Homo sapiens: one gene and its partner. The protein of the gene in region 2 purifies or fractionates together with the protein of the main gene of each other region. This does not show direct contact. Each region holds a gene or a part of one and is shown on either strand. Other genes may lie near its edges.

Region 1 (7,478 bases), on a different chromosome or scaffold from region 2:
TCTGGTTCTGGTTGGGGAAGCGGCTGTCAAAAGGGGCGGTCTTGTAGTTCTTGATTTTGGTCTCCATGTCTTCCGCCATGGTGCTGAATCCTGGAGGCGAAAGGAGTGGGTGTCAGCAGGGGCCCCAGGGGCCCTGAGCAAGCCAGACTACCCAGGATCAATGGAAGAGGGCAGGCACGGAACAATGGGCTGGGTGTGAACAAGTTCCTGCCTCTCAACATACACAGAGATGAGGGGCAGGGCGAATCCACACATCTGAGTGTCGAGGTCGCGGCAGGGTTGGGGTACAACTCCTCAGCAAAATCAAGCCTGGTCCCCAAATAACATGAGCTAACACTCACTGAGTGCTTACTACATGCCAGGCGCTGTTCTACACACTTTACTCCTATAGCCACTCTAAAAGGTAGGAACTATTACTATCACCATTGCCCAGACGAGGAAGGAACAGGGTGTCTAAGTGACTTCCTACGGTTAAACGGCATAAAAATAACTGGTGGGCTGCCTCCGTTGTTGGCATAATCTACACTGCAAAGATTCTTAATCTTTTTGGTGCCACAAACTCCTCAGCAGTCTGATGAATCCCAGAAACCTCTCGCTGAATGTTTTTTTTTTTCTTTTTTTAAGACAGAGTCTTGCTCTGTCACCCAGGCTCACTGGTACGACCTAGGCTCACTGCAAACTCCGCCTCCAAGATTCAAGCAATTCTGTTGCCTCAGCCTCCCGAACAGCTGAGATTACAGGCGCCTGCCACCATGCCCTGCTAATTTTTTTGTATTTTAGACAAGGTTTTACCATGTTGGTCAGACTGCTCTCCAACTTCTGACCTCAAATGATCTGCCCGGCTTGGCCTCCCAAAATGTTGAGATTACAGAACGGAGACACCAAACCCGGCCTGAATATGTTTAAATGTATTTAAAAATTGCATAGGCTCCATGAGTACATGAAGTGAAAAAAACCTGCACAGCATCACAAAGAAAAGCAGTTATATCCAGCTGAGGATTCATTAAGGAATACAATTTTCGCCGGGTGCGGTGGCTCACGCCTGTAATCCTAGCACTTTGGGAGGCCAGGGGGGTGGATCACCTGAGGTCAGGAGTTCAAGACCAGCCTGGCCAACATGGTGAAACCCTGGCTCTACTAAAAATATAAAAATCAGCTGGGTGTGGTGGCAGGTGCCTATAATCCCAGCTACTCTGGATGTTGAGGCAAAAGAATCGCTTAAACCCAGGAGGCGGAGGTTGTAGTGAGCCGAGATTGTGCCAGTGCACTCCAACCTGGGCAACAGAGCAAAAACACTGTCTCAAAAAAAAAAAAAAATACAATTTTGAAGTAATCATGAATGAATATAGTATTTTGTGACATTTGCTGTTATAATGTGGTATAAGAATACCTGTGATTTTGGGTGGAGCACAATGGTTCACACCTGTAATCCCAGCACTTTGGAATGCTGAGGTGGGAGGATCGCTTGAGCCCAGGAGTTCAAGACCAGCCTGGGCAACATGGTGAAACCCCATCTCATCTCTACAAAAAAAATATTAAAATTGGCCGGAAGAGGTGGCTCACGCCTGTAATCCCAGCACTTTGGGAAGCCGAGGTGGGTGGATCACCTGAGGTCAGGAGTTCAAGACCAGCTTGGCCAATATGGTGAAACCCCATCTCTACTAAAAATACAAAAAATTAGCTGGGCATGGTGGCGTGCACCTGTAATCCCAGCTACCAGGGAGGCTGGGGCAGGAGAATCACTTGAACCCAAGAGGCGGAGGTTGCAGTGAGCCGAGATTGTGCCATTGTACTCCAGCCTGGGCGATACAGCAAGATCTTGTCTCAAAAAAAAAAAAAAAAATTAAAATTAGCCAGGTGTGGTGGCGCGTGCCTGTGGTCCCAGCTACTGAGGCAGGATCGCTTGCACAGGGAAGCAGAGGTTGCAGTGAGCCAAGATTTCTCCACTGCACGCCAGCCTGGGTGACACAGTGACCCTGTCTCAAAAAAGGAGAAAAACAAAAAAAAGGAATGTCTATGATTTTCATTGCTAACAAAATCACCGCTGCTGCTAGTACTACCGAGGTTGCTGCCTCAAAAGGTTAGTAAAAACACAGATGCAATTCCACCCCCCACCCCAATTCAAGTACTAGCATTCCTTGAATTCTACCAACTCTGCGGACCCAGGGTTAAACACCTTTAATATAATGTCTCTGAAGAAGTGACAGTGTTCGTCGGGAGCCTGAGAGAAAAGTATCTATATTCCAGGGAATCCTAGGAGTCGTGGGGCTATACAGAGACTTGCAGAGCAGTGTCAAATTCAAGCGACGCAAGGTGGTGGTGGGGGTCTGGAGCACTAAAACAGTCTTTCGGTGGGGAAGTGGGGTGTAAAACACCAGCTGCTGGGGCACAGACGCAGTAGGAAGGATCGTTACCGGCGAGATCTCTACCCGGTATCTGAGGATGAGGGTGCATCGGAGATGACGCTGCGGCCCCTCCAACGTCCAAAAGGGAGGATGGACTGGACACCCGGGAGCCAGGCTGCGGCCCAGGCAAGCCGCGAGAGGCCACGCCTGTGAATTAGCCATGAAGAGCCCTGGAGGACAAACTCCTGGGCCAAATCCTGGTCGCTGTGTAGGTTCAGCTAGGTCGCTTGGTATCTCTGAGCCTGTTTACTGACAAAAGGGGATAATCGCAGGCCCTATCTCATAGGGCTGGTGGGAGAGTTAAATAAATTAATTAAAGTTGTTTGGGATGTTGCCTGGCATCAAGGAAGAACCGTATCATTGTTAGCTCTTACGATGAACAGAACAGGGCCCCGGGGTCCAGGGAGGCCGGACGCCGCCAGCCGGAAGCCTCAACCCGTTCTCAGGGAAGCTGGGGTCCGGCTCCTCAGCCCGCTAGACTGGGGTCCCAGGTTACAGAACCCTCCACACTCACCTAAAGGCACCCCGGATTCAACCTGCAGCTCAATGTGACCCTCAGCAAAGACACCACAGTCGGACAGGAAGCGGAACTACTACCAGCCGGAAGCTGAGAGAGGTGGGGACTACGGGAGTCTTGCGAGCGGCTTCAGCTCCCTCCCAGGAGGAGGCCACTGAAGTCATTCAAGCCACGCCCAGCAAGAGAACTACGACTTTCTATTGGGCTAAATGCTTGTTCATCCTCACTTCTGGCCCAATCGTGAGCTTGCGCGGCTGGGGCTCGGGCGCCCGTGGGTTACCCGATCTCATCACCTCTGTGTCTTCACTCGGAGAGAGTGTTATAGATCCCGGGGCTGGCTGGAGGGTAGGTGTGGAGAAAAATGTCCCAGCGAAAGTACTTTTATTCATGCAAGAAATATTTATTGAACGCTTTTTCTGTGTCAGGTATTTCTTTTCTTTAAATTTTTTTTTTCTTTTTTTTAAATTTTTGAGACAGGGTCTTACTCTATGGCCCAGGCTGGAGTGCAGTAGCGCGATCTCAGCTCACTGCAACCTCCGCCTCCTGGGTTCAAGCGATTCTCCCGCCTCATCCTCCCGAGTAGCTGGGATTACAGATGCGCACCGCTACTCCTGGATATATATATGCATTTTATAGAGATGGGGTCTTGCTGTGTTACCCAGGCTGGACTCGAACTCCTGGTCTCTAAGCGATCCTCCCGCCTCGGCCTTCCAAAGCGTTAGGATTACCGGCGTGACCCACCGTATCCAGCCATCAGGCACTTTACGGGTTGAGAAAGCACGCTGCACAAAACACAAAAATCCCTACCCTTAAAATATATATATAGAGAGAGAGACGGAGTCTCACTCTGTCGCCCAGGCTGGAGTGCAGTGGCACGAACTTGGCTCACTGCAACCTGCGTCTACTCGGTTCAAGCGATTCTCCTGCCTCAGCCTCCCGAGTAGGTGCGATTACAAGCGCACGCCACCACTCCCGGCTAATTTTGGTATTTTTGGTAGAGATGGGATTTCACCATGTTGGTCAGGTTGGTCTTGAACTCCTGACCTCAGGTGATCTGCCCACCTCGGCCTCCCAAAATGCTGGGATTACAGGCGTGAGCTGCCCTACCTGGCCAATTTGGCTTTTTTTTTTTTTTTTTTTTTTTTTTTTTCAGACAGAGTTTTGCTCTTGTTGCCCAGGCTGGAGTGCAGTGGTGTGATCTTGGCTCACTGCAACCTCCACCTCCCGAGCTAGAGCGATTCTTCTGCCTCAGCCTCCCCAGTAGCTGGGATTACAGGCATGCGCCACCACACCTGGCTAATTTTGTATTTTTAGTAGAGATGCGGTTTGTCCATGTTGGTCAGGCTGGTCTTGAACTTTTGACCTCAGGTGATCTGCCCGCCTTGGCCTTCCAAAGTGCTGGGATTACAGGCGTGAGCCACCGTGCCCGGCTATATCTGTTCTTTTACATTATGTTTACCTCTTTTTGCCTCCCTCAACAGAAAAGAATTATCATAAAGGAAGAATTTTTGTCTGCCTTATTCATTCACCATTGTATCTAAAGCAGTGCCTGGCACACAGGAAGTGGTCTATAAATATTTGCTGAATGCAAGAATTTCTTGTGGAAATGAAGGAAGCATCTAGGGACTAGGAGAGGGAGCTATGAAAGAGAACTGCTTTCCTTCCTCCCCCATCTGGCCTCTAAAGCCTCTCACATACCATCTGGGGTGCAGTGTCCAGATGGAATTGGGTCAGGGACCTCTTCTTACACATTCTGTGTCCATCAACATTGTGATTATTTGTGGAATTACCTGTTTACATGCATGTATTCATCCCCTGCAATGAGATCTTCCTAAAATCCAAATCCCTTTCCCTGCTTAAAACCCCTTGATGGGGGCCAGGCACGGTGGCTCACTCCTATAATCCCAGCACTTTGGGTGGCCAAGGCAGGCGGATCACCTGAGGTCAGGAGTTCAAGACCAGCCTGACCAACACGGTGCAACCCCATCTTTACTAAAAATACAAAAATTAGCTGTGCGTGGTGGTGTGCACCTGTAATCCCAGCTATTTGGGAGGCTGAGGCAGGAGAATTGCTTGAACCTGGGAGTCGGAGGTTGCAGTGAGCTGAAATTGCATCACTGCACTCCAGCCAGAGTGACAGAGTGAGACTCCATCTCAAAAAACAAACAAACAAACAAAACCCTTGATGGCTCCCCAGGAGCCCTGGAGACAAAGTCCAGGCTCCTCACCACGGCCCACAGATCCTTTATGAATTGGTCCCTGTTGCTGCTGTAGCCACGTTTATTTTTAATTTTTTAAATAGAGATGGGGGTCTCCCCTATGTTGCTCAGGCTGGTCTGGAACTCCTGGCCTCAAGGCATCCTCCTGCCTCAGCCTTCCAAAATGCTGAGATTACAGGTGTGAGCCACTATGCCTGGCCCACACTGATAGTTTTGAGCAGTGGTATGAGATCGTCTGCCTCTGGGCCTTTGATCTTGTTGTTCCTTCTGCCTGAAACATTCTTTGCCTACCTGACTTCTCAAATCAGCTGTCTCCTCCTCCAGGGAGTCTCCCCTGACCCTTCTCCTCCTGGGCTAGATCAGGTCTCTCCTTTTGGCCTCCCTCAGTCCCCTGGAGTCTTCTCATCCCAGGTCAAAACACTCTGATGATGGGTCTGTCTTCCCACTGGACTGTGAGCTCCTTAAGGGGAGGGTCCAGGGCTGTCTTGGTCCCTGCTGTATCCCCCGCATCGCTCACAGACAGCAGGCTCTCTTTAGGGGCTCAGTGGCTCTCAGAATGGCGTAGGCTCTCTTTACAGTGTAGGTCTGAGTCCTGTGTCCTCCAGCTTGGAGTGGGGAAAGAGTGAGTGGTGTTGGGGTGCAAGCACTAGTTTTAATTCTTTGATGATCCCTTGCACTGGGAGGACACACAGCACAGTAAGCCCTTTTCAGGGTCTGAGTCTTCTCTTCAAGGGGACACAGCAGATATACTCTCATGATTGGGTCTGATTCCTTTACAAATCCCGACACAGGGCAGGGACACAGTAGGCCCTATGGGCTTTGGGTTTAGTTTCTTTGCCTCTCTCATCACAGGGCGGGCACATGGCAGGCTCCCTGAGTCTGGGTCTCCTTTGATCATTGCGCAGCACTGGAGGTGGGTGGTTCCTCATCCCAAAACTAACCACCGAGGAGGGAGGTCCGCGAAGATTGCGGAGGGAGTGAAGGCGGAGTCGAGAGGCGGGGCCTAAGGGGGCGGGACCGGGGAAACTGACAGCGTGGGGCGGGGCTTAGGGACCTGGGAGCTTAAGGGACTTGGGGCTGGTGGCCCGCACTTCAGGGTCTTCAGGGAGAAGAGGACTAAGACACTGCAGTCTTTTAGCGAGCAAGGATCCAGGCCTCTGGATCATGTGAGAGGAAAGAGATGAAGGCCCAGACGCCTGGGTCTCCGAGGTGGGGAGGCCAAATTCCAACATGTGGAGCTGCACACTTAGGCTCCCTAGCTGCTGTAGTCAGTATCAGCGGGAAGAATGCTGCAGAGGAGCACGCGCGAAGAGGTTTGACCGGGAATTTTTATTGTGTCTCTGCTCCCCGTCCGCCTCCCGCACAGTCCGGATAGGCTAGGCTGGGCACGCGGCCCCCGAAGCGGTACGTGTACTTTCGCCCCCCGCTCTTGCGCACGATGTCGCGGCGATAGTAGTAGCGAAGGCCCCGGCTCAGCTTCTCGTAATTCATGCCCGGCTTTCTCTTGCGCTCGCCCCACAGCCGAGCCACCTAGGACAGAGGCCCGCTCGGTCGGAGTGGGAAGGGGCGGGGCTTGGCGATAGTGGGGAGGGCCGGGCCTGGGGGCGGTGTGCAGTGCAGACCTGGGCGAGGCCTCGCAGAGCCCGGTGGAGACTGGGTTGGTTGAGGCAGGAGTACAGGCGGGAGATTGGGTTTGAGAAGGGTTGGGCGGGGCCTCGAGTGGGCCGGGGAGCGGCGGGGCCGAGGGCTACGCGGTTGAACCTAGCCCTTGGGCGGAGCTAAATTGAACTAGAAGAGACGGGGCGGATTTGGCTGGGCAGGGGAGCTGCCCCACCTCTTTGGGGTCGCACAGCTGGAACTCGCGGCTGTTGCCAGTCCAACGGATGCAGCTGCTACGCGCCCCGTCGTGGAGCAGCTCCAGGAGGAACTGCCACAGCTGAATGGGACCTGCGGGATGAAGGGAGGGGCACACTCAGTCTTCCCGGCCCTAGATCACACCACTTCAATGATCTAGAGGTCCGGGTCCTCCCAACTCGGGACCCAGGACCCGAGAAGGGGATCCGCCCCCCCTTCTCTGAGATCCAACAGTCAGCCTTGGAGACTCAAGCGTCCAGGGCCCCAGTCTCAGAGATTTAGGAGTTTGGCCTCCCCATCTCGGAGACCCAGGAATCTGGGCCTTTATCGCTTTCGTTTTATATAATCCAGGAGCCTGGGTCCTCATCCCCTTGGTCCCTATAAGACTACCAGTTTCTTAGCCCTCTCCTCCCCAAGGACCTGGAGTGCGGGCCACCGGCCCCTCCTTCGAGCCCCTGGTCCCTAAGCCCCCGCCCCCTCACT
Region 2 (12,311 bases):
CCATTATTTCCTCAGTTTCATCAGGTTATAAAGAAGATAATACCTTGCCTCCTCCACAGGGTACACTGGGGGAATTCAGTTATCATTGTGCACAGATGAGGTGTTGCAAACACGATTCCTTAGTTCTATCCCACAGTTCTATCCCTCCACAGGGTAACCGTCACCGCTCACCTGCCTTCTTCCTCATGTAAGATGTTCTGTTGTGTACGATGCAAGAGGTAGGACGCCAAGCCAACAGCCCACACCGTACAAAAGAGTATGTGTATTGCAGAGATACTTTTCCAAATAACATTACCTAAAAATAGATGTTCTGATGTTGTTAACCACGGAATCACAGCCCACAGAAAAAAAAAATGATCTTTTTGTATGTTTTGCCATAGTCTGCTTTCAGAAAAGACATTCAGACTCCCTCAGCCCCATCGCCCCTTTTTGTTTTAGGACAACACAGAGGTCACAGCACTAATTATAAACTTCAGTGGCCATTTCTTGTTTGGGTTGTTCAGCAGCTCCCCTTCCTAGGATGATTACCCTTATTTTCTCTGGGGATCCACCATGTCCACACTCACAGTCCATGTTTCCCAGTGAACTGGACTTTGGCTAGGTCAATCAATACATGTTATCTCCTCAGCCACAGTGATTTGGATCAGCACAAACGGACAAGCAATCAGAGCCAGCAACTGCATTCTGAGACTTTGGTAGAGTGAAGAAACACAGTCCATATTCCACTGGACGTGGCATCGTGAAGATGTGAATGGGGGGCTGCAGGGCCACTGTGTGGAGCCCAAGAGTGAAGTTAGCATGACAGATGGTGGAACTGAGAGGTGGAGAGAAGGTAAAGTTCCGAGTCCACCAGTCTGAAGCCAGCACCACCCTTCACCTTTTCAGTAAACTGTACCAATACCTTTTCTTCTCAGCTCATAGCACATTTGAGTTATTTTCTAGCTTGTATCTAAAGGAGCCCTAACTGATCTACCTTAAAGATGCAGACGGAGTTCTAGCTGCCTATACAAGGAGCCCAGGCATCTAGGGAACTAGAATTTTCCCCACTAAGGTGGGACTCATTAGTCTTTATTCTAAGGCCCCTGAGAACATTCGAGCCCCACTAGGAGAAACTGTTTTAAAGAAAGTGAAGAAGAATCTGTCCTCTCACTTCTATAAAACAGAAGACGCTGTTTTATAGCAGATCCTTCTGACGTTTTCCTGAAGATGGGTAAGGATGATTAGAATTAGCCCCTTTTATTATCAGAAATGAGAAGAAAGGCCTAGAGAGCCCCGTTTTACTCCTGGGAGTTGGGCAGATAGACCCTCATTATTATGAGGAAATCTGATTTGCTGTCTCTCCATTTAGAATGCAAGGCTTATACCTGTGACTTCAGGGTTAAGTCCAACAAGCAGGGTCAGTACTGCAGGGATTGTGTACACCACCTGTTAGCAAAAAGGGAGGAAATTACATGAGTTAAGATGTATGCCCAATATATGAGATGTTCAGAGATACAGGAAGTAAAGAAAGATGAGATCAGTGGCTGCTGTGCCCCATGATTTGCCTCTAAGTTTCAATGGTGATTGAGAAAGTGGTAGATTCTCCTTTTGTGGCACTTAGCACGTCTGCCTGCAATTTTATCTACCTTCCTCCTAGACTATAGGCTATTCCAGAAGCTCATTTATCTTTGAGCTCTAACACTGAGCACAGGGTTTTGGTCTTAAGACACACTAACTTTCCAGTCGCTCCCAAGCAACTTTCATGCCCAAATGGCCTTTCCCCACTTGCATAAAAGAAAATGTTCTTTGAAAAGTAGGGCAGGAGCAGCCACGATGCTAGATGGCCCTGCTGGCTTTGGACCCAATGGACCATCCAGGCCAGTACTGCATCTCTGTGAGACCACAGAAAGTTTTCTAATAATGCATACACAATCAGCTGTGCCCAGTAATAAGGTCAGGCTCTTCATTTTGGAACTGCTGATAAGTGTTTGGAAATGAGAAGACTAGCCCTAAAGAGGCCCTATTCCTAAGCCTTGTTCATAACAAGCAGGCTCTAGCCAAACTTACTATTGTGTGTGTTGTTGGCAGGGAATAAGTAGGGAGGGTGGGTTTATAAGAAGGATGGGGACTTTCCAAACAATGTAGCTGTCTAATCACATCAATTTCTGTGCTTATATCAGAAGATGTTAAGGCAGGTGCCAGGGGTCCATGTGGGAGGTAGTGGAGGGCTGAACTGTGAATGAGGGAGGATGTCTATGGGGACATGGGGTCTATTCCTCCTATTATATCGTCTGAGCATGAATGAAAGGTAAAATGTGCAGGTACTATAGAGATAAGCAATTAGACCTCGATTGTTTAATTAATTTTTTGGAGATGGGGGGGGTCTCGCTATGTTGCACAGGCTGGCCTCGAACTCCTGGGCTCAAGTGAGCCTCCTGCCTCAGCCTCTTGAGTAACTGGGACTACGGATGCCTGCCACCATGCCCGACTCAAATTTATTTTGTGTTTTGAGGGGCTCTCCAAGGCAGTGGTAAGGAACAGAGAGATGATAAAGATGACTGAGATTCTGAACAAGAATGACTCAGAGAATGATTCTGCTGATAACAGAAATGGGTGAGTCAGGATAAGTAGATTTTGGAGGGAAAGATGCTAGGTAGGTCCTTGGGCATATCTGAGGAGCAGTGTGACATGCAGGTGAATATACGCAGCAGTCTTTTGGAAATTCACCATTAAGCTGGATGTCTGAGACTTGTCTGCAGGGAAATAATATTTGGAATTCAAGATACGGACCAGGGTGCCAAGGCAAAGGCAGTTTGATTTGATTCAGAGGCATACTGATCTGGATAGTAAATATCAGAATGTGGTTTTACTGCACTAAAAAAACAAAACCTGGATAGAATTTCATGTTATAATTCCAGATACCATCATCCTTGTTGCTCCTCTGTCAATATTATTCTAAAGCTTAAGAGTCATCTCCTTGGTGTACTGTACAGTCTTGTGTATCTATATTGAGAGAAACTGGGCAAAATTCAGATATTTTGGAAGATAAAAGATATTTAGAGCCGGGCGCGGTGACTCATGTCTGTAATCCCAGCACTTTGGGAGGCTGAGGCAGGTGGATCACCTGAGGTCGAGAGTTCAAGACCAGCTTGACCAACATGGAGAAACCCTGTCTCTACTAAAAATACAAAATTAGCTGGGTGTGGTGGCGCATGCCTGTAATCCCAGTTACTTGGGACACTGAGGCAGAAGAATCACTCAAACCTGGGAGGTAGAGGTTGCGGTGAGCCTAGATTGCGCCATTGCACTCCAGCCTGGGCAACAAGAGCAAAACTCCGTCTCAAAAAGAAAAAAAAAAAAAGATATTTAGAAGATGTATGGAACAATGGCCCCCTCCTCCAAATGGTTCAAATCAGAGCCTTGCTTATATGAAGACTGTAGGTTTTACAGGATTTAATACTTTTCTTTGCTTTTTTTTTTTCTTTTTTTTCTTTGCTTTTTTTTTTTTGAGATGGAGTCTCACTCTGTCGCCCAGACTGGAGTGCAGTGGCACGATCTCAGCACACTGCAACTTCTGCCTCCTGGGTTCCAGCGAGTCTCCTGCTTCAGCTTCCCTAGTAGCTGGGGACTACAGGCGCATGCCACCACGCCTGGCTAATTTTTGTATTTTTTGGTGGAGACGGGGTTTCACCATGTTGCTCAGGCTGATCTAGAACTCCTGACCTCAAGTGATCCACCCGCCTTGGCCTCCCAGAGTGCTGAGATTGCAGGCGTGAGCCACCTTGCCCAGCCAGGAGTTAATACTTTCTAGAAATATAAGTCACTGAATTAGCAGAACCTCAGAACTTAAGCCTGTTATTTTCCGGTCAAAGGTTTGCATTGAGTGTCTGGCTAGAAACTCATAAGGAATTGTTCAACTGATCTTGAGAGGCCTACTCTAGGTCCTCAAGAAAGTCCTCAGTTGGGCCATCTAACCAAAGGGAATACTGCAGAAAGACCTGTTTCCAGAAAGTTCGAAATTCACACACACATTACATTAGAACTCTGATCCTGCCTATTAATATTTTAGGAAAAAGCGCTTCCCAAGGGTTTGATTTTTAAGTTTCTCAGAAAATTAAGCAGGGAGGAGGGGTAAAGACATAAAACCGTGTGTTTTGTGCCGTTCCCCAATTCTTCCAAACGGAGGAAAGCCTGGAAGCGGCTCATACTCACCACCCACACCTCTGCATCTGGGTCATTTACCTGGAACGCCAGAATACCAAGGTGTTAGCAGACATCCTGTGCTGTTCCATTCCTTTTAAATTCATTTAAGCACATTTTTTATTAATTTGTTAAGTGCCAGACACTGCAATAGGCATCGAGGGTACAAAATCTGAACAGGATATAGTCCAGATGAGGACGGGTGAAGGGGTTTCTGGCTGACACAACAGATGTTTTTAACAGGCAGCCACACATTTTTGAAAAGCCTTCACGGGAGCTCTGGAGAGGACTCGCCAACCCAGAACGGGTATTTTAAGGGCCCTCCACCCCCACCAGTCTCAAGAAATGAGGGAAATGATTATGAAGGGGGTCCCCAAGCCGACTAAAAAGTTTAATGATGCTATAAAGGGTTTTGGTCGGCTTCGTCTCCTAGGCCCTGAGATATGTTCAGTGTCGTCCGCGGGCCGGACGTTAACGCAGGAGCCAGGGCCGCTTCTTCTGAGGTCCCCTGGGAAGTTCCACGCGCGGAACCAGCCCCTTCCAGGGTGTGAGCCCTGGTATGGGACTCGCTTCCATGAACACATCCGCGTCTCTTAGACGGGGGAGAAAGTGGGGGCTCCCCAAGCAGAAAGCCCAAGTCCCGTCCTCCCCACTAACTGTGCGCCCCTGCGACTCTGCCCGCTAGTCAGTTACACGGCCCGCTAGGCCAGGGGGCGGAGCTGGGAGCCGGGCGGGTCCCCCTCCCACCGCGGCCGCCTGACCTGCACCAAGGCCGCCAGCGCGAAGAAGGCGGCCATGAGTCCGTTGCAGGCCCGCCACAGCGCTGGCGCCATGGCTCGGAGAACACGGCGCGGGGCGGTGAGTCCTGCCACGTGCGGGGCGGTGAGTCCTGCCACGTACGGTCCGCCTTCCTCCTTGCGCGGAGGGACCGAGACCCCCGCCTCGGTTTCGGTGCCTTGGGGACACTGCCGTGGCCGTCGCTCCGCCCGGGGGCGGGGAGCGAAGGGCGTGGGTGTAGCCCCCACTCAGCGACCCATTCAGCCCGCCCCGAACGCCGCGGGGTGTAGGCGGCGCCGTCCTGGTTTCGCGGATGGGAAAGCGAGTCCCTCAGGGAGCGCAGGTCTCGGTGGTGGACGGAAGTCGAATTTGAACCCGTATAGGTTCAACTCCAAACCCTGTTTTCACTAAAGCTACCTTCCTCACAAAAAAAAAAAAAAAGAAGAAAGAAAAAAAAGAAGGAAAAAAGGAAGGAAGGCAGGCGGGAGGGGAGAGAGGAAGAAAGAGAAAGAAAGAAAAAGAAAGAAGGAAAGAAAGGGCTGGGCGCAGTGGCTCACGCCTGTAATCCCAGCACTGTGGGAGGCCGAGGTGGGCGGATCACCTGAGGTCAGGAGTTCGAAAGCAGCCTGGCCAACATGGTGAAACCCCGTATCTCTACTAAAAATACGAAAAAATTAGTCGGGCGTGGTGGCGGGAGCCTGTAATCCCAGCTACTCAGGAGGCTGAGGCAGGAGAATTGCTTGAACCCGGGCGGCGGAGGTTGCAGTGAGCCCAGATTGTGCCACTGCACTCCAGCCTGGGCAACAAAGCGAGACTCCTCAAAAAAAAAAGGATAAAAATTGTTTTTACAAAAATAAGAAAGAGAAAGAAAAAGAGATGTGTGTGTGTGTGTGTGTGTGTGTGTGTGTGTGTGTGTGTGTGTTCTGTTTAGTATTTATGCATTTCCTTCCAAAGCTCAGGAACTTTCAAATCCCTGTAAGCATTATGGTAATTTCTAGAGTGACGACAGTTATATTAACATCTTATACGGCTCACAGCTTTTCGGCAGACAGGCTCATTTATCTTCATGGGCTTTTATTATAAAAGATATTTACATATTATACATATTTACAATTCTCTCCCACCACCAAAACCAACAAAATTTCCAAAATTGCTCATGAATTTCTTATGAACCGAAGACACTGAAATATTCACTGTTCTCCCCTAGTCTGTCTGGTCTTTTTCTGTTTTGTAATTCGCCCTTCTGCTTAGTTCCTCCCCGGGCTCATTTACACATCCATAGGCCTCATTTCTGCTGTTCTAAAGAGTCTTTATCGCTTCAAATCAGGAGCTTCTGTGCCTGTCCTCTTTTCCTTTGAGCTAAATCTCCTAAAACTGTCTAGTTTTTTTTTTCTTTCCCTCTCAGTTTCATTCTTTTCACGAAACACTTATTTCAAGAACGTTGTCTGCTCTGTGCCTGGTGCTGGGACCGTGAAGGTCCCGTGCCGGGACTAGGCAGGGAGCCTGGCGGCTGGCGGGGGTGGGCACCCGTGTTTGCAGAGGTGGGGTGGGGACAGCGGGGACCAGCACTGGGTGGAGTTCCACAGCTAAATCAGCCCTGGGATTGGAAACAAGCGAAGACTATTCTCACTGTGCTTTTCCTTACATAAAAGAAAAAAATGAGAGCGAGAGTGCTAGGGGCTGACTTGCATTCCCCCTGCACCCCCAATTCATATGCTGAAGCCCTAACCCCCAGTGCCTCAAAATGGGACTGCATTTGCAGACAGGGACTTGACAGAGATGATTAAGTTAAAATGAGGTTATAGGGTGGACCCTAATCCAATATGACTAGTGTCCTGATACGAAGAGGGGACAGTTACAGAGGGAAGACCACATGGGCACACAGGGAGAAGACGGCCGTCTGCAAGCCAAGGGGAGAGGCCTCATGAGAAACCAACCCTACCAACATCCTGAATTTGGACTTCCAGCCTCCAGAACTGTGAGAAAATAAATTTCCGTTGTTTAAGCCACCTAGACTGTGGTACTTTGTTGGGACAGTCCTAGCAAATTAATACAGGGAATGATTATAATACCCACAAGGAAACAATGGCATGGAAGTGCTTTTAAGCTCTTGAATGCCATACAACCACCATGAAGTTTTATAGTTTTCACTGTTGTCTGGGACTTTCTTTTTTTATTTCTATTTTTTTGAGACAAAGTCTTGCTCTGTTGCCCAGGCTGGAGTGCAGTGGCACGATCTCAGCTCACTGCAACCTCTGCCTCCTGGGTTCAAGTGATTCTCCTGCCTCAGCCTCCAGAGTAGCTGGGACTACAGGCGCCCACCACCATGCTGGGCTAATTTTTGTATTTTTTTTAGTAGAGATGGAGTTTCACCATATTGGCCAGGCTGGTCTCGAATTCCTGACCTCATGATCTGCCTGCCTCGGCCTCCCACAGTGCTGGGATTACAGGCATGAGCCACTGCACCCGGCTGGGACTTTCAAAGTCACCTTAGTGAGCGTCTGTTGGTTTTGCCTTTGCAGGGTTCAGTCCCCTTTCTTCGAGGATCAGTGTCTTTAGTACTGTGGATTACCACATGCACTATGGGTGGATGTGGACTACAGGGTTGACCGTGCTCCCCTCCTTTTGGGGATAGGCAGGTGACTTTGGCCTGCCAGCTGACATATCCCATTCTGTTGACCACTGTGATTGGGTCTAGGATGGGTATAGGATCCAAATTGCCCAGATTCAATCCTAGGACCTATATGGGACTTAGGTTGTCAGTAAAGGACAACCTCAGTTGAACTGAATTTTGGATCATCAATGATGTGTTCCAAATATTTGCTAAATCTGGCAATCCTACTCACACTATTAAAGAGAAGCTTTCTTTGTGATGAATGTGTAGAGCTGGTAGAATGTGAGCCTGGAGCTGTCAGGAGAAAGCCTCACAGGGAGAAAGGCTTTCTGCAGGTGAAGTTTAAAAGCCTGGATCCAGCCATGCCTGAAAATGGAAGAATCTCACAACCAACAGAGTCTCTTCTTTACATAAGCCCGTGTGAATTGGGTTTTTGTAATTTGCAACAAAGAATGATGACTTGTAAAGTCATGATTCAATAGTTAAGGCAATGTGTGAAATCCTTGCAAACCTCCTGCTATAGGTTTGTCCAGGCTTTGCAGAGACACGGAAGAGAAGGCTTAGTCTGAAAAGTAATGAAAAATACGTTTAAATGAATCCAATATCTCAGACAGCTCTGCTTGAAGAGTAATTTCATTTCCCTTTTTAGCAAAAGGCTATGATACAATACTGCAGAGAAGATGAGGTTTTAAAGGCAGTAGGGTCTTGTCAAAGCTGGCTTCCCTCTGCAGAAAGGGCAGCACAAAGGACCCTTCATCCTGCTGGACACTCCCTGGCTGCCCAGTCAGTGACAGCATCATAAAAGCAATTGAGCCACAGGAGTGAGGTGAGCTGGACTCACTTCCCCGCTGGAATCCGAGAATGGCTGGACATCTGCCCTCTGAGAACTTGGAAATAGAGGTGCTTGCTTATTCCCTGAGAGTAGGGTTGTTAATCCAATGCTAAGAGTTGGAGCAGAGACAGGAAGCTCATATAAAGACACAAATGGCCTCCCAGGGTCACAGGATTGAGAGAGAGAAAATGAATGCATGAAAGTACGTAAAAGAAGAATGTCAGCAAAGGAGGATTGATGGGCTTGGAGGCTTCAAGTTAGGTCATCTGAAAGGCAAGCGTAGACCAAGTCCATCCTCACACAGACTGGAGAGAGTGCTTTGCTCCACCAGATGTGGACACTCACATTTCTTGGTCGGGCCAACCTCTTTGGGGCTTATGTGGGTTGAAAATTTCACAGGCTCAACCCTCCCCTTGCTGTGATTCCAGAAGGCCAATTTTGGAGACTTTGGCTTCCCACCTAGCTGGCCTACAGAGTGGAGAACATGTGGCTCTCTGAGCCAGGTGCATTTCAAAGTGTGTATCAATGGAATGCCCATGCCATTCTCTTTTATAGACTTGTTTTCCTTTTAGTAGTCTCCATTATCTGTCCTTCCAGGTGTGGTCAGCTACTCCGGAATGTGGCAGGGGTGGAGGCCGGACAAAGTCTGAAACAGGGTCATCACCAGTGAGTGGCTCCTGCCTGTGCTCTATGTCCAGAGTGTGTGTGTGCTGGTGATGCTCCCAAGGTGACATATTGGGAACAAGGATTACAAGGATCAGAAACTGCTGCCCATGCCGTCTACCTCCCTCTGTCCAGCACACCAGATCAGCAAAGGCCAAGCCATGCTGTCTCCAGGCTCTGCTGATTCCATGTGAATGAAGTGTTGGGGCAGGAAAGGGTTGGAACAGAACAGTGGAGGAATTCTACTAGGAGCAGTGGACGAATTCTACTAGGAGCTAGACAGCCTTCTGCTAAAATATTTGAAATCAGAAAAGCACCTCGCCACGGCAAGGATTGATTTGCTTCTACAAAACCCATCTAGTCTCTATGAAGGACTTGGGTTTCTACTGTTAGCAAAATATAGCCCGTGTTATGAAAGTCTTAAAGCTTACGCATATTGATGGACAATGAAAAACACTTGGCTTGAATAATGTTCCTCAAATATCCCCTTATGCCACTGAAAGGAGAATATGGTTAAATGAACCCTCTGCGTGTATTTATATCCACCCTATTCATTGGCATGAAACACTCAGTGAGCCATTTATTCTATCCATTTATTCTGTCCATTTATTCAAGACTTCCTACGTGTCAGGCACTATGCTAATAACTGAGGATGTGACTGTGACCTCACGGGACACGGTGTTTGCCCTTGTAGAGCTTACAGGCCAAACAATAATTACACGAATAGGTAGGGGTTCCAGCCAACAATGGTGGTGATGCTGAGAAGGAGAAGTGAGGCTGCTATGGGAATGTGTGAAACCAGAGAATCTGACCTCTTCCCAGGGGTTCCAGAAACCTCCTGAGGAGGTGATTTTCAGGTGTGCCCTGAAAGATGAATGGGTGAGGACAGGTGAAGACTTTATGGACCAGTGCTTAAAGCCGAGAGAGAAGTGCTTATGAGAAGACCAAATCCTGAAGGTCTTCAGGGCCTGGCAAAGAATGAGAGTACAAGTAGACATAGATGAGGCTAGCACAATGCAGGTAAAGAGTTTGGTTTTATCCTGGCTGGGTGTGGTGGCTCACGCTTGTAATCCCAGCACTTTGGGAGGCCGAGGCAGATGGATCATCTGAGGTCAGGAGTTCAAGACCAGCCTGACCAACATGGTGAAACCCCATCTCTACTAAAAATACAAAATTAGCCAGGCACAGTGGCGCATGCCTATAGTCCCAGCTACTCAGGAGGCTGAGGCAGGAGAATCACCTGAACCCAAGAGGCGGAGGTTGCAGTGAGCCGAGATCACGCCATTGCACTCCAGCCTGGGCAACAGAGTGAAACTCCATCTCAAAAAAAAAAAAAAAAGTTTGGTTTTATCCCAAGTGTGCTGAAGAGCCCCTGGAGCACTGAGTGGGGAGAGCATGATGGGAGGTGTGCTTGGGCTGCCCCGTGGAGGAGGATGCACTGGGGAGAGCCCAGAGAAGAAGCAGAGACTGGCCATGAGGTGCTTGCAGTAGGCCAGGAGAGAGATGATGCTGGCCAGGGCTAACAGGGTAGCAGTGGCCATGGAGGGAAAGAAGCACGAATGAGTGACATTGGGGAGATAAAGTCAATCAGACTGTATGCAGGGAATAAAAAAATGCCTCCACTCCTTATGACAAAGTTAAGTTTTCAAGGCTGGGTGTGGTGGCTCACACCTGTAATCCCAGTACTTTGGGTGGTCAAAGTGAGAGGATCACTTGAGCCCAGGAGTTCAAGACATCCTGGGCAACAGAGCAAGACTCCATCTCTACAAAAAAATTTTAAAAAATTAGCTGGGTATGGTGGCATGTGCCTGTGGTCATAGCTTCTTGGGAGGCTGAGGCGGGAGGATTGCTTGAGTCCAGGAGCTCGAGGATGCAGTGAGCTGTGATTTGCACCACTGCATTCCAGCCTGGGTGACAGAGCAAGACCCCATTGAAAAAAAAAAAGGACTTTCAAAATCATACATGGCAGATTACACAATAAATAAAAATAATTGATAGAAAGTACTTAAAAAAACAAGTTTTTGATTCTGCATGGCTGAGAACAGACTGCAGAAGGTAGGTGAGCTCTTCAAGGGAATGGCAAAGCACTTCCCAGTGTTGCCTTTGCTCCGTCCAGAATCGCTGAGTGTCAGCCTGTGCTAGCACCTACCTGGCCTCAATTAGAGTCGCCTGATCTCCTTAGGTGGGACTGTGGATGCTCTTCTCCTTATACTTTCACTTTTTTTTTCCCTTTATGGAAATTCTTAGTTTTTTTTGGGTGTGTGGGTTTTTTTGTTTTTTTTTTTTTGAGACAGAGTTTCGCTCTTGCTGTCCAGCCTGGAATGCAATGGCAGGATCTTGGCTCACTGCAACCTCCACCTCCTGGGTTCAAGCGATTCTCCTGCCTCAGCCTCCCGAGAAGCTGGGATTACAGGCATGCGCCACCACACCCAGCTAATTTTTTTGTATTTTTAATAGAGATGGGGTTTCTCCATGTTGGTCAAGCTGGTCTTGAACTCCTAACCTTAGGTGATCCGCCCACCTCGGCCTCCCAAAGTGCTGGGATTACAGGCGTGAGCCACCGCACTTGGCTGGAAATTCTTAGTTTTAATCTCGCAATAATTGTTCTGTGTGTATGTGTGTTGTTCATGCTCCTAGACTATGCCACAAATTTCAGAAGGTAAGGACTATAACCTGTTAATTTTTTCTTCTCTCCAGTAGCACCTGACATACCTGGATATAAACAATATCCAAGGTGAGTGGGGATACAATGAAATGTTGTAGGAATATTGGGTTTGGTGGTGGGGGATGTAATAGGTAGCGTCTTGAATTTACTGAGTTAGGCAGTATTCTAATCACTTCATATATATTAACTCGTCTTGTGCCCACAACAGATCTATTAGGTAGATAGTACTATCATCCCCATTTTATGGATAGAGAAACAAAGGCATACACTAGCTTTTAAGTACCCTGGTTAAGCAATAAGTGAGTCAGAAATTAGACTTCTTCAAGCTCATGGTGAGGCCTTCTGCAGGTTTATGAAGGGAGTGAGTGAAGTGGGCTCTCTCTCCCATGAGAGTGGAGCATTTAACTCAACAGCTACCCTGTTTCCATGAACTGGAGAGGGTGGAAGGGGTCATCTGTAGACCAGGGGCTCAATTCTCCAAAGGCTGAAGGGGTGATGTTTGAGGTCCTCCTTTGATGCCATTCTTCTTATGTCTTAGCTATTTTAAAGACCAGGAAGATTCTCCACTCATGCCCTTGACT

Evidence for each region.
Region 1: the proteins of TMEM220 (region 2) and COX6B1 purify together in Homo sapiens (affinity purification with mass spectrometry; 2 studies listed by BioGRID and IntAct, with this or other methods). This does not show direct contact.

What each region holds. Positions count from the first base shown.
Region 1 is NC_000019.10:35,643,845-35,651,322, reverse strand, and holds the start of COX6B1 (cytochrome c oxidase subunit 6B1), read right to left. Parts: upstream 3,001-7,478; 5' UTR 2,920-3,000; intron 91-2,919; 5' UTR 80-90; coding exon 1-79. Other genes in the region: ETV2 (ETS translocation variant 2), read right to left, coding at 6,471-6,671, 6,976-7,088. UniProt on the Homo sapiens protein: Component of the cytochrome c oxidase, the last enzyme in the mitochondrial electron transport chain which drives oxidative phosphorylation.
Region 2 is NC_000017.11:10,724,840-10,737,150, forward strand, and holds the start of TMEM220 (transmembrane protein 220), read right to left. Parts: upstream 5,185-12,311; 5' UTR 5,013-5,184; coding exon 4,941-5,012; exon of another isoform or gene 4,938-4,940; intron 4,222-4,937; coding exon 4,192-4,221; intron 1,426-4,191; coding exon 1,365-1,425; intron 296-1,364; coding exon 172-295; intron 1-171.